2 separate regions of the Homo sapiens genome follow, and region 1 is linked to region 2. A link means that fine-mapping ties the variant in region 2 to the expression of a gene that starts in the linked region. Tissue or cell type: esophagus mucosa. Region 2 holds a variant in brackets; the other region holds the start of a gene. All regions are shown on one strand. Distances are from middle to middle.

The links. PIP is the estimated chance that this variant, and not a neighbour inherited with it, causes the effect.
Region 1: CPNE8 starts here. The variant in region 2 is fine-mapped to the expression of CPNE8 in esophagus mucosa (GTEx, PIP above 0.99).

What each region holds. Positions count from the first base shown.
Region 1 is chr12:38,901,558-38,909,743 of GRCh38, reverse strand. It overlaps CPNE8 (copine 8), which reads left to right and starts at 4,153. Exons shown (of 20, transcript NM_153634.3): 1 at 4,153-4,307. The coding sequence starts at 4,210. CPNE8-AS1 (CPNE8 antisense RNA 1) reads right to left here and starts at 4,032. Exons shown (of 2, transcript XR_007063275.1): 1 at 2,747-4,032; 2 at 152-434. RefSeq lists an enhancer at 2,609-2,868 and a silencer at 3,999-4,168.
Region 2 is chr12:38,348,187-38,356,372 of GRCh38, reverse strand. No RefSeq gene overlaps it. Among named protein-coding and RNA genes, the nearest start is that of ALG10B, 36 kb to the right of the region's middle. RefSeq lists an enhancer at 5,544-5,623. The variant T/C (reference allele first, on the strand shown) is at 3,355.

The sequences.
Region 1 (8,186 bases), 550 kb before region 2:
ATACTTTCAAAGTTTTATCATTTAAAGCTTACTTCACTATGATGAATTTATAAGCACAGAACTTGAAAGAGTCAGCAAAATGGAAATAATAAATGTTATCGATATGTATTACTTTTCTTAGGGCTGCTGTAACAAATTACTGCAAGCCGAATTGCTTAAAACAACAGAAATTTATTCTTTCACAATTTTGAGGGTCAGAAGTCTAAAATCAAGGTGTTCCAGGGTCAGGCTCCTTCCAAGGTCTCTAAGAAAAACCTTTCCTGGCCTCTTCCAGCTTCCTGTGGTTACTGATAATACTTGATATTCTTTGCCTTTGGTGGTACAACTTCAGTCTCTGCCTCTATCTCCACATGGCCTTGTTCTCGGTCTGTATTTTTCCAAGTCTCTCTCTCCTTAAGCACACCACTCCACTGCTGACATATATTAAGGAAGACCTAAATAAATGGAAAGATATATAATGTTCATAGATCAGAAGATAAATTTGGATCAGATGTCAATTATTCTCTGATTTGTCCATAGAATCAATGCAACCCCAATGAAAATCTCAACAAGACTTTTTGTGGACCTTGTCTAGCTGATTCTAAAATTTATATGAAAATGAGAAGGATTAAAAATGAAAAAACAATTTTGAAGAGGATCAAAGTTGGAAAATTTATACTACCTGACTTTAAGAGTTATTTTAAAGCTATAGTAATCAAGACTCTGTGGCATTGGCTTAAAGAAAGACAAATAGGTAAATGGAATAGGATAGAGTCTAAAAAATGGACTCATAGATATATGTTAATTTTTGGCAAAGGATGCAAAGATTTTTCAATGAAAAAGGGTAGTATTTTCAACAAATGGTGCTAGCAAAATCTGATGACAATGTGTAAAAATGAGAACTTTGATTAGAAAAACCAAAATAAATTATAGAGATAAACGTAAAACCTAAAACTAAAATTTTAGGGGAAAGTATAGAAGATGATAATTTTTGTGATCTCACATTAGACAAATATTTCTTAGTTTTGACATCAATATTATGATTTATAATAGATAACGTTGAAGAACTAGATTCATCAAAATTAGAAACTTCTTCTCTTTGATAGACAGGAGAATGAAAACACAAGCCACAGACTGTCAGAAAATATTTTGTAAACCACATGCGATAAAGGTCTTGGATACAGAATAAAGAATTCTCAAAACTCAGAAATAAGAAAACCAACAACATAATAAAAAAATAAGTAAAATATATGAAGACACTTCACCAAAGAAGATACGTATACACATAGCAAAAAGACATAGGAAAATACGTTCAACATCATTTGTCATGAAGCCACATGAGATATTACTACACATCTGTTAGATAAGCTAAAATTTAAAAGACCATCATAAATGTTGGCAAGGATGTGTGCAACCAGATCTCTTATATACTGTTGTGGTAAAGAAAAGTAGTAAAACTCTTTTGAAAAAAAAGTTTAATAGTTTCTTTTTCTTTTTGAGACAGAGTCTCGCTCTGTCCCTAGGCTGGAGTGCAGTGGCGCGATCAATCTCCACTCACTGAAACCTCTGCCTCAGGGGTTCAAGAGATTCTCCTGCCTCAGCCTCCGGAGTAGCTGGGACTATAGGCGCACACCACCATGCCCGGCTAATTTTTGTATTTTTGGTAGAGACAGGGTTTCACCACGTTAGCCAGGATGGTCTCGATCTCTTGACCTCATGATCCGCCCACCTCACCCTCCCAAAGCGCTGGGATTACAGGCATGAGCCACCGCACCTGGCCTTAATAGTTTCTTAAAAAGTTAAACATACACATTCCATATGATCCAGCTGTTCCACTCCTAGGTACTTACCCAGAAGTAATGAAAACATACGTCCACAGAAAGAGTTGTACATATATGTTCATATCAGTTTCATTTGTAATTGCCCAAAGTTCGAACAACCAAAGTGTCCATCATCAGGTGAATGGACAATTTATAGCGCATATATACAATGAAATAAATTAAAAATTTATTTCATTAAATAAATGAAATTTATTAATTTAAAATAAATTAAAAATTTATTTCTTTGTATATATGAATAAATATTTAAAAAGTAGAATGAACTATTGATGCTAACATAGATGAATCTCAAAAGAACTTTGCTTAGTGGAAGAAGCCAGACCAAAAATACTACCTGCTTTATGATTCCACATACATAATTTTTAAAAATGCAAACTCTTCTATAGTGACATAAAGATCAGTGGTTGCTTAGAGGGTTGTTTCAGTGATGAAAGGAGGTACTGATTACGACGTAAGAAAACTTTTGGGTGATGGAATGATTCATTATTTTGATTTTGGTGATGGCTTCACAGGGAGATACATGAGTCAACATTTATCGAATGATGGATGCACTTTAAGTGCAGTTCATTATATATGTTATACCTCACTGAAGTGGAAACAAATTGGATGTAAGTATCCCACATGTTGACTACTAAAGTTCTCAAGTTTCATCTCTTCAGTAGGCTTCTGTAAAGTAAAATTCTGGTGAGCTTAAAAAAAAACCTAGATCTCTATGCCAAATTAACTTTGAGCAGCATAATAGAAATGCCTGGGGTTTTAGGGCATTTCCAAATCGCAGTAAACTACAGTTTAATTTGTAATAGGACAAGAGGAAGGAAAAAAAAAGAAGAAAAAGCGGTGGGTGGGGAAATCAGGAAAGGAAAGCAAGAAGAAACAGGGGAAGTACACTCGGCAGGGGAATCGGCAAGACTGCACCTACACACTCTCACCCGCCTCTATAGATTCTCTAGGCAGGAGGCTGCAAGTGGATTAAAATGTTACAACGCAAGGCAAGTCCTCCACCGCAAAAACTGCTCCTCCCAGACTTAGCCCAACCAGCTGGAAACTCCGTGCTTGGAGCGTTAAATCGGACGGACACCCGCCCCCTCTCCACCCTCTGCCTTCCAGCTGCGCCGCATCCTGTTCTCCGTCGCCGCCTGGTGGCGAGCTCCCGGGACCCGCAGGCGCTCGGGTGAGGCAGGAGGGAAGGCGCGGGGAACAAAGGTCCCTGCAGTGGAGGGGCGCCTCGTCTACCTCCGGATGCTTTTGCCACGACTCCGTCTTGGCACCAGTCTTGCTGCCCTGGAATGCAGTTTCCCAAACGCAGCGCTCACTCTGACTCCTCTCTGCTTTTATCCGTCAGGTCTCAGTTCTTGCGGGTGGGAGTCGGCTGAAGGAGCTGCGTTATATGGTTGTGACATCACCCTCCCCGGCCCCCATTTTCAGGTCAGAACTTTCATGCCTTTGGAAACGAGGGACCCAGAAGAGCCCTTACTGTAGGAGGAATGTCGCCGTTAGACCTCTAAGCTCCGAAGAACCAAGGGGAGACAGAATCCAGATTGCTTCCTTAAATCCCAAGTAGTATTGTTTTTTCCACCTTAGAGTCCGCCCCCCCGCCCCCACTTGTCCCATATATTGATCGGCCACTTTGCCACCGTGTTCCAAGGTTGGAGAGCGTCACAATGCCCCACCGTCCCCAACTCTCAAGTGGCCGACAGTGGGCAGTCCAGAAGCTGGGACCAGACTCATCTGCCCGAGGGCACAGTAGGAGGGACGGAGGGATCTCCCAAGAGCTCCGAGGGCGAGGTGAGAACCAATTGTGGGGAGGGGGACCTTATAACGGGGCAGTTAGGAACGGGCAGAGGTGCCCCCACCTCCAGCTTTCAACTCAGGCGAGGAAACTTCGAGACCTTCCCGTCCACACCTGATTGACAGAAGGAAGCTGTCGCGGCCCAGGAGGCGAGTGTGGGTGTGCAGAGGTGGAGACAAAACCTAAAAGCACGCAGAGCCGGCGAGGGCTTGCGGTCCTGGACGGTAGGGGTCTGCGTCTGGTGCCACCTTCTCCATCAGGCTGCTTGCTGGGTCCACCAAGCCTGACCCCTCCAGCCAGGAGGGGATCACGGAGTGTGTCCCCCGCCCGGGCTGCTGCCTGCCGGAAGGGGGCTGGGAAACCGGGATCCCCGCGCGCCACTTGCCTGGCAGCGTCAGTTTCACCCAGGACTGGCTAGCGGTTCCCTCGTGGCTCTGCGCGGAGGTCCGCCTCCTCCCTTCCCTCCCCCATCCCGCGCGCTGCCTCCGCCTCCTTCTTCTGCCTCCACCCTCAACCCCCATCCCCGCCTGACGGGAGCTAGCCCTCAGTCCGCCCGAGCTGTGGTTGTGGGCGCCGGACAAGTCCAAGGCGCCTCCTCCCAATATGGACAGCCGCTACAACAGCACTGCGGGCATCGGGGACTTGAACCAGCTGAGCGCTGCCATCCCGGCCACGCGGGTGGAGGTGTCCGTGTCCTGCAGGTGAGGACGCAGCCCTTCCCCTCTCTCCTGCCCTCTCATCTGTGGGGTTGGTAGCACTTGGAGAGCGCTCGGGGTACCACGAGGCTTTGCGCAGGCAAGAAGTTGCGCCATGAGTGGGAAATATCTCAGTAGTGGGGCTGGAGTTACCCCGGGTCAGGTGACACAGGGGAGCGGGAATTAGAAGCGGTGGGCTCCGGGACTGAGACTTTGTATTTTCTTTCTGGGAAACGCTGTAAAAGTTGGCTGGGCTGTGACTCAGCTGTGGGAACACCGGCCGCCGCCCACTTTACAAGCCGGTTTTCCGCCCCAAACCCGGGCTGGATGGTTGGGTGATGACCGGAATCGAAGGGGACAGCACTGCCAAAAGCTCTTGTGACCGCTGCACGCTTAGGCCCGGGACTTCCTCTGCTAGGCGTGTGCAAACCTGCTGTTGCTAGGGTTGGCTCCAACCCCGGCAGCTTCCTCCCCACCCACTTCCTGGAGCCTTCCAGCTTGCTTCTCCCCGACCCTTCCGGGCTTTTTGCCTTTTGCCTGATAGGTAGAGATTTCGGCCCTCCTTGCAGACGAATCTATGCCTTACCTAAGATCTGGGAAGTCACGACTTTTGTTTTGATTTGTTTTCGGGCCCACATCTGAGTGCTTGTAAAAACTGACTCTCGGCCGGGCGCAGTGGCTCAGTACAGTTTATACGCCTGTATTCCCAGCACTTTGGGAGGCCAAGGCGGGTGGATCACGAGGTCAGGAGTTCGAGACCAGCCTGGCCAATATGGTGAAACTCCGTCTCTACTAAAAATGCAAAAATTAGCCGGACGTGGTGGCACGCGCCTGTAGTCCCAGCTACTCGGGAGACTGAGACAGGAGAATCGCTTGAACCCGGGATGTGGATGTTGCAATGAGCTGAGATCTTGCCATTGCACTCCAGCCTGGGCGACAGCGCAAGACTCCATCTCAAAAAAAAAAAAAAAACAAAAAAAAACTGACTTTCAACCCTGTCCAGAGACTGTAAATTGCAAACTCGTTGTCCTGACCTTTCGGTTAGTTGCCCTGTAAATAAAGCAGCATCACCGCTATATCATAGATGATTTTGAGAAGGAGATGAGCGATGGTGCTAAATTGGTACTGGCCACTAATTTGCGAATTAATATTGACCCTGGAGCCCACTCCCTTGTTTGCATAATTGGGTCTGTCTCACTGGAAAACTGGCTCCTCATTTATCCATTTTTGCCCTAAGATTGTTTTTATGCCCTCACATCCTCCCTTTCCTTTCCTTAGCAAACTTGCCTTGAAGATATCTAACAAATTTGGGTGATCTTGATGTAAATAAGTTTAAAATTCCATCAATCTTGACTTTGCATTTTCACAAACTGAGCCTAAAGCCAAAGGAATTCTTTTCTGGGGGTGAAAATTCGAGCACCAGCAACCGTAGTAGAAGTATTATTTGAGGGTAGGGGACAGCCTTTATCTAGCCCTGAAACTATATCACCTGATTGTTTGCCGCCTCTTAAGACTGATCTGGGACTATGGAAATAATCATGCTGATAATGATAGCTATCATTAAGCTCTTGCCTCATTGCTGTCACTGCTTTAAGTGCTGCCTGAGATTTTTCTGTCAATGGAACAGGTGAAGCTGTTTGGAAAACTCTTTAGAGGATTCCTAGGCCTTTTTCTTTTCTCTGAAGCTTGCTTTCGATGTTAGAGGGAAGTTACTGGTATATACAGATAATGGATAGCCGGAAGTCCTACAATAACAGCATTACTAGAGTTCTTATCCTCTGCTCAACAGTCTGCAAAGTCTGAATGGCATGTGGCCTATACTTGGAATGAATATAAAAGAATATTGTCAATCAAGTCTGAATTTTTCCATGAGCTTTTTAAGGGAAATTATACCTAAACTGGTCATTCTGCCAGTAGGGCCCATGTTTAATGCAGCCCCTTTTTTGATGCATGTTTTCTGTGAGTGTGCTGGGCATACTGAAGTCAATTGGCTTAAGGCAATTTGTTTCAGTTTGCTGCCTCAGAACCTGCAAATCCCTTGTTCCAGCTTTTTTTCATAACATTGCTTTGACATTTTGTTTTTAATTTTTAAGATTTCTAACAGGAAAAAAAAATCCTGAAAGAGAACCTGAATACTTAGTGTCAAGCATCTCTGCCAGGGGCACTAGTGCTTAGTCTATTGTTTGAGTTGCTTCTGACTCAGCTTACTATTTACGATAAGTTTGAGGTAAAAAGCATCTTTTGGGCAAAGAGAAACATAATTAAATACCCAAGTTAGTGCCTTTGGAATAGGTTTGGGAATAGTTCCTGAAAAGGTGGGTTAAATTTATTTTTAATACATTAAAATTCAAAGATAAAAATATTTGAGTATTGTTGGATCTTGTAACCATAGGAGGTGGTTTAGTTTGGGCTTTGGCATCAGAGACCTAAGTACAAATTCTGGCTTTGTGACTTGTTCTTGCTACCTTGGAGTAAGTTCTTATTCAGTCTGTCTAAGCATTCTCATCTCCAAAAATAAGAATAGTTATGGTATTTACCTTATATAGAGTGTTATCAAGGTGATGTGTGAAAGCGCTTACACAATGCATGAAACAAAAACATGTTTTCAAAAATGTTAGCTATTATTATAATACTGGAAATAACATTTGTTGAATAAATGTGTTATATATGATTCAGGTATGGAATTCTGTAAAAGTCCTTCTCTTTTGAACTTCAATAAGTTGGTTAAAGAACACAAGGATAGAACCAGCATTGGGATACCTGTTCCCGCTTTCTCTATCTTCTTTGATGTGCATCAAGAACATGTTTTGTAGAAAGGTTGTGGGGATTTCACTTAGCAACAAAGCACAGTTGAAGGCCTCTGAGCCTTGCTATGGGCAGGCAGAGTAAGGAATTCCCTTGCCTTACTATACCAGAGACTTCTGAGGATTTGCCCACACTTCAAAAGCAGCTCAGATTTGAATAGGTTCTTTCTTTCTCATTCTTTATCTTTCTTTCTCTCTCTCCTTTCTTTCTTTCTTTCTTTTTCTTTCTTTCTTTCTTTCTTTCTCTTTCTTTCTTTTCTTTCTTTCTTTCTTTCTTTCTTTCTTTCTTTCTTTCTTTCTTTCTTTCTTTCTTTCTTTCTTTCCTTCCTTCCTTCCTTCCTTTCCTTCCTTCCTTCTTTCTTTTCTTTTTCTTTCTTTCTTTTTTCTTTCTTTCTTTCTTTCTTTCCTTCTTTCTCTTTCTCTTTCTTTCTTTCTTTTCTCTTTCTCTTTTCTTTTTTCTCTTTCCTTTCCTTTTCTTTTCTTCATTTCCTTTCTTTCACCTCCTTTCACTGTCCCCTATCATTAAAAGCTTTATGACAAAGTTTTTATCTTCATTTTGGGGAAGGTGAAAAAGATAAACGATTGAAGCTTGAATATAATTCATGGAAATAATTTAGTCTGTTTATTCATCAAGTGTCTGAGTGCCTTTTATATGTCTATGTTTATGCTAGGGTCCATGAGAAATGCAAAAGAAGTTCTCTGAAAATGTAAAATCTGATTGAGAGATAAACACTACATAAGACACGGTAACGGGGCTAAATTCAAAGATGAGGCTCATGCATGAGGAGGGAAAGGATCATTGTGGAATAGGGTGCTTGGAGTATATTACAAAGGGGAGAGATGGGGCTTGGGCAGAGACAAGCTGGATAGGCATGGTTTGGATTAGAGAAGGGACAGTGGTTAAATTTATAGCCACTTAAATTTGTGTTAAGGGGGTGAGAGGTACCCTTTTCTAGATGTATTTATGCAAAGGCAAGCTCCTGCTATTTGACCTCCTTCGTCTTCTACCCATTGTCTAGCTCTTCTTGCATTCATTTTCTTTTATTGTATAAATTTGTAGATTTTTAAATTAATTAGCTTA
Region 2 (8,186 bases):
CTTACACAATTTTTTAAGTAGAAAAAAAGTTTTACTGAATACAGTTAAGATAGTTGGAAGCTGGGGTCCTAATTTCCTCCCCAATTTAGAAAATGAAAGAGATATTGGGGATACATTTAAGAGTGAGCCAGGAAAAAACTCAGACTCTCACTTCTACCATAGCATTTTCAAGTAAGAAATCATACAGAAAACTGCTATAATATTGGCAACACGGAGTGAGATTATCAGTAAGGGAGGAAAACAGTATTTTATTTATCAATCAAGAGGAAGTCCCACATGCTCCCAAGTAATACTTTTCATCATACTCCTTTTAATAACCAGAGGATGTACCTTTTAGTGCTGTGGTACCAAGTCAGCCCTTAGTAAGTGTGGAGCCTATGAATGTCAAGTAAAGAAAGCTGTCAAAATGGAATCAGAATCCTTTGAAAATATTCACCTTTGCAGTGATGTCACTCTAACTGTGCAATGCTTTTAACTTTTTAAAGTGTTTCTAAATATTAAGCATGCCAAGCTCTGAATTCTAAGATACAATACCTCAATAGATTCAAATCTTAGTGGATTGGACCTTGACCTGGATATAAGGCTTTCCCTTTTACTAAAACTGAATTTAGACATAAAAGCTTTTTTTCTCTTTCACTATGCAATAGGAAACTTGACTTACTTAGTGTCTAGCATCAGCTACTACTTTAAGAAACATTTTCTTGCCAGGATTTTGATACCCTTTATTAGTGTCTGCTGACTGGTAGAGAACATATATGAGGGAGAAATGCTCAGAAGATTCTAGCTTGTGGCAAATCTGATAGGAAACAGGTCAAATATAAATCATAGCATTGACAAGGAAGACAACTCTAATTAGCATTTCTATTTATGCTTAATTTTTCAGCATGTTAAGAGAGGGAACATGAAGATGAAACTGTAACTGCTTGGTGGCAAAAATAATCTGTTTTCTGGCAATTTTTGAAAGCATCAACTAAAATAAGAAATTATTAAATATAGATATAAGTTATTTTATATCATACTTATGTAAGTATCAAATTTTGATTAAGGTCACCTTTAACCCATAAAAGAAAAAAACTAATATGAATGGGTCAAGAAGAATAATAAAATGATAGGGGAGACTCAGGAAAACAATGGATGTTATTATGTAATAGTAAGACAAATCACTGAGTTAGGATTCAGGAGGACTGAATGTTTGTTTTAGCTCGGCTGCTACATGGCTATTTGATTTTAGGCAAAGTGGTCACTTCATCTCTTGGATTCAATTTCTCCATCTGTTACATCGGGGTCACAGCATCTGAGATCTTTTCCATCTTTCAGTTTCTCTGAATACATAAGAAGAAATAACACAGGTCAAAACATTTTGAAAAATATAAAACTCTACACAAGAGCAAGGTGTTACTGTCATTGGTGAAATTTCTTACCTAAAGACAACAGGGACAGATTTCACAGCTGTTACTGACAAGTGGGGAGATTCTGCAGGTGGGTCATGTAGACATGCTGCTTCAGGCTGAGCCTTGCAGGAGTGAGGAACTTCACACCCAAATAACTGCTAAGAGAAACAGTGCCATTGATGGCCTCCATGCCTGGGAGTCTTTACAGCAATGTACACAGGACTAGGAGGGCAATGTTGCAAAACCTCATAATCTTGTAGCCCCTTCTTGAAAGCAGAAATATAATAGGACAATTTCCATAGCAGAATTTTACTTCTTTTAGCCTCCAAAAAGATCAAAGAATTCCCAGGCATCTCTACAGATTAGCCTTTTTCAACTGGCCTTTCTAGCCCTTTAAGAATCAGCATTCTCATGAACATAGGCTTCTTTATTCCTTAAGAAAAAAAGATGAACAAAATGTGATTGGTTATTATTTACTAATGTTTACATACATACACTTCATCTGAGAAGTCTCAGCTCCAAATGCAGTTGATGAGGGCTGGAAAAGTGACAAAATGAACACTTGTTTCACTTCAAGTTTCCCTAGGCCCTTCTTCCCTACTGTCCCCACCCCCTTGCCCCCCACAGCTATTTAAAAGATGTCATTTTTATTTATTTATATACTCATTAAATAGGTAATAATTTACATGATCATCAAAATGATATAAAAAATCTATTAAAAAGTTTGCCCTGTTGGATATCCCCTCTCACCACTCCTATTCAACACAGTGTTGGAAGTTCTGGCCAGGGGAATCAGGTAGGAGAAGGAAATAAAGGGTATTCAGTTAAGAAAAGAGGAAGTTAAATTGTCCCTGTTTGCAGCTGACATGATTGCATATTTAGAAAACCCCATCATCGCAGCCCAAAATCTCCTTAAGCCGATAAGCAACTTCAGCAAAGTCTCAGGATACAAAATCAATGTGCAAAAATCACAAGCATTCTTATACACCAGTAACAGACAAACAGCCAAATCATGAGTGAACTCCCATTCACAATTGCTTCAAAGAGAATAAAATACCTAGGAATCCAACTTACAAGGGATGTGAAAGACCTCTTCAAGGAGAACAACAAACCACTGCTCAAAGAAATAAAAGAGGATACAAACAAATGGAAGAACATTCCATGCTCATGGGTATGAAGAATCAATATCATAAAAATGGCCATACTGCCCAAGGTAATTTATAGATTCAATGCCATCCCTATCAAGCTAACAATGACTTTCTTCACAGAATTGGAAAAACTACTTTAAAGTTCATATAGAACCAAAAAAGAGCCCACATTGCCAAGACAATCCTAAGCAAAAAGGACAAAGCTGGAGGCATCAGGCTACCTGACTTCAAACTATATTATAAGGCTATAGTAACCAAAACAGCATGGTACTGGTACCAAAACAGAGATATAGACCAATGGAACAGAACAGAGCCCTCAGAAATAACACCATATATCTACAACCATCTGATCTTTGACAAATCTGGCAAAAACAAGCAATAGGGAAAGGATTCCCTATTTAATAAATGATGCTGGGAAAACTGGCTAGCCATACGTAGAAAGCTGAAACTGGATCCCTTCCTTACACCTTATACAAAAATTAATTCAAGATGGATTAAAGACTTAAATGTTAGACCTAAAACCATAAAAACGCTAGAAGAAAACCTAGGTAATACCATTCAGGACATAGGCATGGGCAAGGGTTTCATGTTTAAAACAGCAAAAGCAATGGCAACAAAAGCCAAAGTTGACAAATGGGATCTAATTAAACTAAAGAGCTTTTGCACAGCAAAAGAAACTACCATAAGTGAACAGGCAACCTACAGAATGGGAGAAAATTTTTGCAATCTACTCATCTGACAAAGGGCTAATATCCAGAATGTACAAAGAACTCAAACAAATTTACAAGAAAAAAACAACCTCATCACAAAGTGGG[T/C]GAAGGATATGAACAGACACTTCTCAAAAGAAGACATTTATGCAGCCAACAGACACATCAAAAAATGCTCATCATCACTGGCCATCAGAGAAATGCAAACCAAACCTCACTGAGATACTATCTCACACCAGTTAGAATGGCGATCATTAAAAAGTGAGGAAACAACAGGTGCTGAAGAGGATGTGGAGAAATAGGAACACTTTTACACTGTTGGTGGGACTGTAAACTAGTTCAACCATTGTGGAAGTCAGTGTGGCGATTCCTCAAGGATCTAGAACTAGAAATACCATTTGACCCAGTCATCCCATTACTGGGTATATACCCAAAGGATTATAAATCATGCTGCTATAAAGGCACATGCACACATATGTTTATTGAGGCACTATTCACAATAGCAAAGACTTGGAACCAACCCAAATGTCCAACAATGATAGACTGGATTAAGAAAATGTGGCACATATACACCATGGAATACTATGCAGCCATAAAAAAAGATGAGTTCATGTCCTTTGTAGGGACATGGATGAAATTGGAAATCATCATTCTCAGTAAACTATCATAAGAACAAAAAACCAAACACTGCATATTCTCACTCATAGGTGGGAATTGAAGAATGAGAACACATGGACACAGGAAGGGGAACATCACACTCTGGGGACTGTTGTGGGGTGGGGGGAGGGGGGAGGGATAGCTTTAGGAGATATACCTAATGCTAAATGATGAGTTAATGGGTGCAGCACACCAGCATGGCGCAGGTATACATATGTAACTAACCTGCACATTGTGCACATGTACCCTAAAACTTAAAGTATAATAATAATAAAATAAAATAAAAGATTAGACAAAACAGTGATACCTAAATATACTTATAATAAATTACTCATTTTTTAAAATAAAACAGTGGAAATACAAAAAAAAAAAAAAAGAAAATGTGACACATATACACCATGGAATACTATACAGCCGTAAAAAAGGATGAGTTCATGTCCTTTGTAGGGACATGGATTAAGCTGGAAACCATCATTCTCAGCAAACTATCCCAAGAAAAAAAACCAAACACCGCATGTTCTCACTCATAGGTGGGAAATGAACAATGAGAACACTTAGACACAGGAAAGGGAACATCACACACTGGGGCCTGTCATGGGGTTTGGGGAGTGGGGAGGGAAAGCATTAGGAGATATACCTAATGTAAATGAGGAGTTAATGGGTGCAGCACACCAACATGGCACATCTATACATATGTAACAAACCTGCACATTGTGCACATGTACCCTAGAACTTAAAGTATAAAAAAAAAATTGAAAACAAAAAGTTTGCCCTGTCCATCCAATTTATCTCCTGAGCCTTGCAATCAGCCTTTTTAGTTGCTTCTATATCTATTCAGTGTTTCTTTATATGTATCAACACATCTGTTTGCATGTCTTCTTATTTATCTTCTTTATCACACAAAAAGGTTATGTGCCCAATACATTCTTGTGCTCCTTGTCCCCAAACTTTTCTAATATAGCCTGCCATTTATGCACTTTGTAATGTAATGGTCACATGGTCCCATTTATAGTAAGCAGAAAAAGCCGAGTCTGATTCATTGAAAGGTTATTGCCCTTCTGAGGAGGAAATTAAAACTATGTAGCAATCTTAATTTTAAAGTAAATTGTGGTGCTGTGGCATAGCTGTGACCCTAAGCAACAATCTCATCTAACAGTCTTAGAACATTCTGTTGGCATTTGATATCCTTAATAGCCCAAAGAAACCACATAAAAGTGCTTTAAAAAAAGACTTGTTGAATTCAATTAAATTTAGAAGAAACTTGGCTGTTTTGCTTTTGTTTCACTTTTGCTTTAGTTTAAAAACTGTGAGGATGAGGCAAGTAGCTTAGATGTTAAAACTTAAGTAATAAACAGATGGGGAGAAGACATAAGTGTGAAAAACTGTCAGTCTATCCATCCATTCATGCATGCAGCAAGAATTACTGAGCTCCTGCTATACTCCAGAAATGATTCCACACCCTGGGGATACAGTGGTAAAAATGCCAAGCTCATAACAGCTTGATGCCTGTATTCTAGGCTCTAGCATATTCTGTTACCCTATACAAAGGCACTATGACCTGCCACCAAAATTACTGCTCTGCCTCCTATCTCATTTCCTCATTTCTATCCATCCAGCCTTTGGTCTACACTCATAACAGCAGCCAGATTTGTTCTGTTAAAAAACAAAGGCCAGATGATGTCATCCCTACTCAAAATCCCCTGATAGTTTCTCATCCCCTTTGAGTAAAAGCCAACGTTCTTATAAAGCTTACACGATCTAGCTCTCTTACTGATCAGTGAAACTACATAATGATACATTTGGATATAAAACATTATAAAGACTATGAAAAATGTAGAGTAATATATAACAGCATTTCTCTTTCCACTGAGCAATATTAAGTACTTAGTGTGTACAGATTACTGATGCTACCTCTTTAGATTCCAGGTATGAGAACGGTTATGGCTGAGTACTAAGTGCAGGCATTGGCTTAAGTAACCATAGATTTCCTTTCATAAAAGCATTGACATATTTAATGGAAGTGGTAGATAAACATTCATTATTTCTGCTGTACCATTGTCCTATCTATCCATTAAGAAAATACGCAAGAAAGCACAGCAGAAAAAAAGTTGGTTGAAAATAGTAGATTTAGGCAAGACTGAATTGAAGATCTTTAATTCTTTCCCTTGGAATTTCTCAGAGTTCAGAGACAGGCTCAATAATAAAACAATTCAATGCCTTAAATGAAATATAAATCAATGCCTTAAAAAATACTGTTTTATTTTGCAAATGAATGAAAAGATCCCAACTTTATGTTTCCCAAAACATCGAAAAGAGGATTAAAAAGGTGGTTGGCTATATTTTTTTCCAAACAGAGTCACATATTAAATGTTACAGATAATTTTCAGCCAACTGACAGGAAGACTTTTAATCTATAATAGTTTTATATCCTTCCATGTAACTTTTGGTAAAGTGGATTATACGGCTAGGATTTCCAGACAATATACTAAAAACAAAACCACTCTCAATTCCTTGAAAGAAAATAGTTCATACTATTTACCATGGCTGCATTCTGAATTTTAAATGCAAATAGTACGTTTATGCAATGACACTCAAAAAATCTATTGAATGAATTAATAAACAAATAGATCCAAATAAGTCTTTCTTGCATATTGATTAGTGGAAAGAAAACAAAGAACCAGAACCATCTAGGAGATTTACCTATATTTGGGATAGGAACCTCTCTTCCTCTGGAATTCCTTGCAGGGACATGCATTTAAGTTGCGCTTTAGATCCCACGAAGCAGCATGGGGGTGCAGAAAGAGAAGGCTGGTGGTGGTCAAAGACTCCTGAGCTCATATCATGGCATCCTGTTTGCTAGCTGACAAAGTGATCTTATGTGTGTTAGTTCTGTGGTTCCATTTTGCTATCTATAAAATTTGCCTAACACTACCTCCCTTACAGAAACATAGTGAGGATAAAGGAGATAACATCTGTACAGATCTCATGGTCTTTGCATTTAAGTTCTCTCTCATTGAAATACTCTTTTCTCAACACATTGCTTAGCTGTTTCCTTCTTTTTATATTTTTTCCATAGGTTATTGGGATACAGGTGATATTTGGTTACATGAGCATGTTCTTTAGTGGTGATTTGTGAGATTTTAGTGCACCCATCATCCAAACAGTATACATTGCACCCTATTTGTAGCCTTTTATCCCTTGCCCCTCTACCACTCTTCCCCCCAAGTCCCCAAAGTCCATTGTATCATTCTTATGCCTTTGCATCCTCATAGCTTAGCTCCCACATATCAGTGAGAACATACAATGTTTGGTTTTCCATTCCTGAGTCACTTCACTTAGAATAATAGTCTCCAGTCTCACCCAGTTTGCTGCAAATGCTGTTAATTCATTCTTCTTTTTCTCTGGGTAGATACCCAGTAGTGGGATTGCTGGATCAAATGGTAGTTCTAATTTTAGTTCTTTAAGGAATCTCCCCACTGTTTTCCATAGTGGCTGTACTAGTTTACATTCCCACCAGCAGTGTAGAAGTGTTCCCTGATCACCCCATCCACACCAACAGCTACTGTTTTTTTGATTTTTCGATTATGTCCATTCTTGCAGGAGGAAGGAGGTACTGCATTGTGGTTTTGATTTGCATTCCCCTGATAATTCGTGATGCAGAGGAGTTTTTCATGTTTTTTGGCCATTTGTATATCTTCTTTGAGAATTGTCTATTCAGGTCCTTAGCCCACTTTTTGATGGGATTGTTTGTTTTTTTCTTACTGATTTGTTTGAGTTCATTGTAGATCCTGGATATTAGTCCTTTGTCAGATGTATAAATTGTGAAGATTTTCTCCCACTTTGTGGATTGCCTGTTTACTCTGCTGATTGTTCCTTTTGCTGTGCAAAAGGCTCTTTAGCTTAATTAAGTCCCAGCTATTTATCTTTGTTTTTATTGCATTTGCTTTTGGGTTCTTGCTCATGAAATCCTTGCCTAAGCCAATGTCTAAAAGGGTTTTTCCAATGTTATCTTCTAGAATTTTTATAGTTTCAGGTCTTAGATTTAAGCCCTTAATCCATCTTGAGTTGCTTTTTGTACAAGGTGAGAGCTGAGGATCCAGTTTCATTCTCCTACTTGTAGCTAGCCAATTATCCCAGCACCATTTGTTGAAAAGGGTGTCCTTTCCCCACTTACTGTTTTGGTTTGGTTTGTTGAAGATCAGCAGGCTGTAAGTATTTGGGTTTATTTCTTGGTTCACTATTCTATTCCATTGGTCTATGTGCCTATTTTTGTACCAGTACCA